Regions from separate parts of the Homo sapiens genome. Here region 2 is linked to region 1. A link means that fine-mapping ties the variant in region 1 to the expression of a gene that starts in the linked region. Tissue or cell type: blood mononuclear cells. Region 1 holds a variant in brackets; the other region holds the start of a gene. All regions are shown on one strand. Distances are from middle to middle.

What was found. PIP is the estimated chance that this variant, and not a neighbour inherited with it, causes the effect.
Region 2: CPNE1 starts here. The variant in region 1 is fine-mapped to the expression of CPNE1 in blood mononuclear cells (TOPMed, PIP 0.95).

The regions. Positions count from the first base shown.
Region 1 is chr20:35,820,739-35,823,496 of GRCh38, forward strand. The region is part of intron 2 of PHF20 (PHD finger protein 20); the gene reads left to right. Among named protein-coding and RNA genes, the nearest start is that of PHF20, 50 kb to the left of the region's middle. The variant G/A (reference allele first, on the strand shown) is at 1,404.
Region 2 is chr20:35,663,484-35,666,086 of GRCh38, forward strand. CPNE1 (copine 1) reads right to left here and starts at 1,417. Exons shown (of 16, transcript NM_152925.3): 1 at 1,277-1,417. It overlaps RBM12 (RNA binding motif protein 12), which reads right to left and starts at 1,417. Exons shown (of 3, transcript NM_006047.6): 1 at 1,277-1,417. RefSeq lists enhancers at 126-245, 240-745, 586-635, 956-1,065, 1,250-1,754 and 1 more and a silencer at 984-1,278.

The DNA of each region.
Region 1 (2,758 bases):
ACACCTGGCCAGAATAAGTACTTTCAAGTGGGTAGAGTGCCTCTATGTGTGTATGTGTTTTGCTTTTTTTATATAGAGGGTGAACAGAGGAGATCTCTCTGACAGACATTTAAATAGAGTCCTAAAGTAAGTGAGGGAGTGAGTCATGTTAGTATCCAGAGGAGAGAGGGTTGCAGACAGAGGCAGCCAAGGCAGAAGCCCTGGCGTAGGAGCAAGCAGGGCATTCAAGCAATAATAGGTAGGAACATGTGGCTGGGAGGGTAGAGAGTGAGAGGCCAGAGGTAGGAGGTGAGCCCAGAAAGGTCAGCAGGGGCCAGATCGGCCATAATAAGGAGTTTGGACTTTATTCTAAATGTGATAGTAAGTCATTGAAAGGTCTTAAACAGGGAATCAATGTTATCTGATTTCAAGTATTAAAAGTGGCTGTGGGCCAGGTGCAGTGGCTCGCACCTGTAATCCCAGCAGTTTGGGAGGCCGAGGTGGGTGGATCATTTGAGGCCAGGAGTTTGAGACCAGCCTGGCTGACATGTACTAAAAATACAAAAAATTAGCCTGGAGTGTTGGTGGGCGCCTGTAATCCCAGTTACTCAGGAAGCTGAGGCAGGAGAATTGCTTGAACCCGGGAGGTGGAGGATGCAGTGAGCTGAGATTGTGCCACTGCATTCCAGTCTAGGCAACAAGAGCGAAACTCTGTCAAAAAAAAAAAAGGGGCTGTGAGCCTAGGCAATATAGCAAAACGCTGTCTCTACCAAAAATACAAAAAAAAAAAAAAAAGCCAGGCATGGTGGTGTGTACCCGTGGTCCCAGCTACTTGGGAGGTTGAAGTGGGAGAATCACTTGAACCTGAGGGGCAGAGGTTGCAGTGAGCTGAGATGGTGCCACTTCACTCCATCCCAGGTGACAGAGCCAGACCCTGTCTCAAAAAAATAAAGTTGCTGTGGTTATTGTGTGTAGAATATGCTGTAGGCAGCCATGGGCAGAAACAAGAAGAGCAAGGATCTTTTGTATTAGTCCATGTGAAAGATGATAGTTGTTTGAACTAAAAAGCAGTGGGGGAGTTGATGAGAAGTGATCAGCGTCTGTATAATTTTTGAAGGTACAGCTGACAGATTTGCTGACGACATGTAAGAGATAGAGAAGAGTCAAGGATGACTCCAAGGGCTTTTTCTCTCGGTACCAGTAGATGGAATTACCACATGCTGAAATGGGGTAGACTTCAGTAGAACTAGGTTCTAGGGAGATGATAAGCAGTTTGGTTTTGGGCATGTTAAATATATGAGATTCCTTTGAGATGACTAAGTGGAGATGTTGAATGGATAGTTGAATAACAGAGTCAGATGTTCAAGTGTGAGCCCTGGGTTAGAGATAGACATCTGGGAGTTGGGCTGAGTGCGGTGGCTCAC[G/A]CCTGTAATCCCAGGACTTTGGGAGGCCAAGACGGAAGATCGCTTGAATCCCAAGATCGAGACCAACCTGTGCAACATAGTGAGACTCTGTCTTACAACACATATATACACAAAAACCCCAAGAAACCTAGCTGGGCATGGTGGTGTGAGCTTGTGGTCCCAGCTACTGGGGAGGCTGAGGTAGGAGGATCACTTGAGCTAGGGAGGTCAAGGCTGCAGTGAGCTATGATTGTGCTGCTATACTGTATGATTGTGCTTGGGTAACAGAGCAAGACCCTGTTTCAAAAAAAAAAAGAAAAAAAGTAAAGGAATTTGGGAGTTGGTAATGAGTAAATGGGATTAAAAAAATAGACTATATTTTAGAGCAGTTTTAGGTTCACAGCAAAATTGAGCAGAAAGTACAGAGTTCTGGCTGGGCACAGTGGTTTATGCCTGTAATCCCAGCACTTTGGGAGGCTGAGGTGGAAGGATTGCTTGAGCCCAGGAGTTTGAGACCAGCCTGGACACCATTGCAAGACCCTGTCTCTACAAAAAATAAAACAAATTAGCTGGGGTAGGGGGTGGCTTGCACCTGTAGTCCTAGCTACTTGGGAGGCTGAGGTGGGAGGATCGCATGAGCCCAGGAGTTTGAGGCTACAGTGAGCCATGATTATGCCACTGCATGGCAGCTTGGGTCACAGGGTCACAGAGCAAGACCCTGCTTCTAAAAAAAAAAAAAAAAAAAAAAAAAAAGAATGTATCAAGTTCCCATATTCCTGTGTTCTCCCTCCAGCCTCCCCCACTTTCAACATCCTGCACCAGAGTGGTACATTTATTACAGTTGATGAACCAATATTGACACCTCAGTACCACCCAAGGACCATAGTTTGCATTAAGGTTTGCTGCTGGTGTTGTATTGTTTATGGATTTTGACAAATGTATAATGTATATGTGTATGTTACACATTTATCAAAATCCATATGTGTACATTATACATTTGTCAAAATCCATAAAAGTTACAAAAGTACAAAAAAAGTACAATATTCATAAAAAGACAACTTGATGCTCAAAAAGTTTCGGATTTTGGATGTTTGGATTTGAGATGCTCAACCCATAGTAAAATTCGCTCTTTTTCAGAATACAGTTGAGTTTTGCCAAATTTGACAGTTCACGCAAGCCCCACCACAATCAAGATATGGGCCGGGAATGGTGACTCATGCCTATAATCCCAGCACCTTGGGAGGACAACGTGGGAGGATTGCTTGAGCCCAGGAGTTCAAGACAAGCCTAAGCAACATAATGGGACTTCGTCTCTCAAAAAAAAAAAAAAAAAACCATAATAAAAGTAATAATAATAGCTGGGTGTGGTGGTGTGT
Region 2 (2,603 bases), 160 kb before region 1:
CATCACACTTTTTTCCAGTGGGTTATACTGACTCTATTATTGAATAATATAAAACGGTCCCTACCAACTTCTTCAATTTATATTAGGTTATCTCTGAGAATCCTGGAGCCAAGGAGGGTTTTAGGGCCCAGAAATCTCTTAAAGTCTGCAATTCTCAGCATGACACCACGCAGATGAGTAAATGTTTAGCACTTAATACTGAGTAACCCTCACAAGAGCCCCTCAGATTTGTCACTATAAAGCACACGTTGGAGGCACACAAAAAGCCCGTACGTTTACAACCTAGCAGCTAAGCCTGCTGCACTGGCGTCCAACCCCGTCACTAACCTGTAGATCCTCAAAGTCCCTCCCACCACCCAATTCACGTGGCTGCAAACTAATGCAGCCAAGCTTCAGAGAAACTCAATTAACTCTCCATCAAAAGCACCCACCCTCCGCAGCCCACTGGATCTCGTCCTCCTGAAATGCCACAGGATCCTCTCCCGAGGGAGCCGTAAATGTGCTGCTCACAGCAGCCCCTTCCCTACTGGGGGACCAAAGGCCTGGCATCTTACTACAATTCTCAGAGCCTCAGGAGGCGTACTCACCCCACCCCCTCACCTCCTAGCTTCAGACGCCGGCTTCTCAAAACTGCTACACCCTCGAGTAAAGCCCCTCCCCAGCAATGGACCTCGGAGGCATTTCACTGCAAACCCCTCCACCTTCAGGCCACGAAGGCGGCCGGTTGTGACACTTCCTTTCTGAACTCACAGGAGTGTACCGACTACAGCTTCCTCCCCACAGGTGTGACCTGGGTCCCCTTTTGCTGGTAGGCCACAAAGGCCTCCTTTCCATTTCGGGTTGAAGGAGTGTCCTCACTACGATTATCTCCCCACCTCCAGGCACAGAGATGTAGTTATAACCTCTGCTTCACTGGGGGAGACAAGAAATCCTCCGTACTCGGGATGTAGGCGTGTTTTTACTGCAGTCCCCGTTAGCTCGCAGGCCGCTGAGCCAGCCAGCTCTGGCCTGCCCCCTCTCAGACCACGGGGGAGTCCTCGCTATGGCCTCGTCCCCACTTCGGTACGCAGGCTCATCCTCTTGCGTCCTCCTTGCATCCTCTCAGATCTCAGAGGCCTAAGTGGCATCCCACTCCCCCTGCAGCCCTGCCTCGACCCTTTGTGTGGGGCGCTAGTTGCCGCGGGCTCGAAGGCCTCCGAAGGCCCCGCCCCGGGCCACCAAGGGGCACCACGAGCCCCGCACAGCCCCACCCGTTCAGGGGCTGCGGGAGTCTTACCGGGGAAAGCTGCGCGGCACCAGAACCCAGACCCCGAATTACCCCCCGCGCGAGTGCCTCCGCCCCGCGGCCGACAGCCCCAGCCCGAACGGCTTCCCGGAGCCCAACGCAGCCACCACCTCCTTCGCCGCTTCACAAAATGGCCGTCGGCCCGCTCAGCGGCTCCGCGTTCCAGAAGGGGGAGGAACGGCGTGGTTGACGTCAAGGGGCCGCGCAAGCGCGCTGACGGTCTCGGGCGATCTCCCGGAAGTTACTGGGTTTTGTGCTAAGAGGGGGATATTCAGTCCCTGCTTGCGACTGTTGGCGCACAGGACCGACCTTGGGCTAGTGGCCCTGGCGGGTGGGCTGGGTATGAGTGTCTAGCTTGGCCCTTCACTGCAAGACTGTGCAAATTGCTTCACGTCTTCCAGTTTCCGCGGAAGGAGCGAATTGTGCTTACCTCTAAGTTTTTTGAGGATTAAATGGACCACAACGTGGTGGCTAGTTATTATATCCTGACAAAACAGCCAAAACCTGATTCTTTTTTCCCATTTAAGAGTTTATACAGGCCGGGGGCCGGGCGCGGTGGCTCACGCCTGTAATCCCAGCACTTTGGGAGGCCGAGGCGGGCGGATCACGAGGTCGGGAGATCGAGACCATCCTGGCTAACACGGTGAAACCCCGTCTCTTCTAAAAAATACAAAAAATTAGCCGGGCGTGGTGGCGGGCACCTGTAGTCCCAGCTACTCGGGAGGCTGAGGCAGGAGAATAGCGTGAACCTGGGAGGCGGAGCTTGCAGTGAGCCGAGATTGCGCCACTGCACTCCGGCCTGGGCGAAAGAGCAAGACTCCATCTCAAAAAAAAAAAAAAAAAAAAAAAAAGTTTATACAGGCCGAGCGCGGTGGCTCACGCCTATAATCCCAGCACTTTGGGAGTCCGAGAAGGGCGGATCATGAGGTCAGGAGTTCGAGACCGGTCTGGCCAACAAGGCAAAACCCAGCCTCTACTAAAAATACAAAAACTAGCTGGGTGTGGTGGCGGTGCTTGTGGTCCCAGCTACTTGGGAGGCTGAGGCAGGAGAATCGCTTGAACCCGGGAGGTGGAGGTTGCAGTGAGCCCAGATGGCGCCATTGCACTCCACCCTGGATGACAAAAGCGAAACTTCGTCTCAGAAAAAAAAACAAAAAAAGAGTTTTAATCTAGGGCAGGGCGCAGTGGCTCACGCCTGTAATCCCAGCATTTTGGGAAGCCGAGGCGGGCGGATTACCTGAGGTCAGGGGTTCAAGACCAGCATGGCCAACATGGCGAAACCTCGTCTCTACTAAAAATACAAACATTAGCTGGGCGT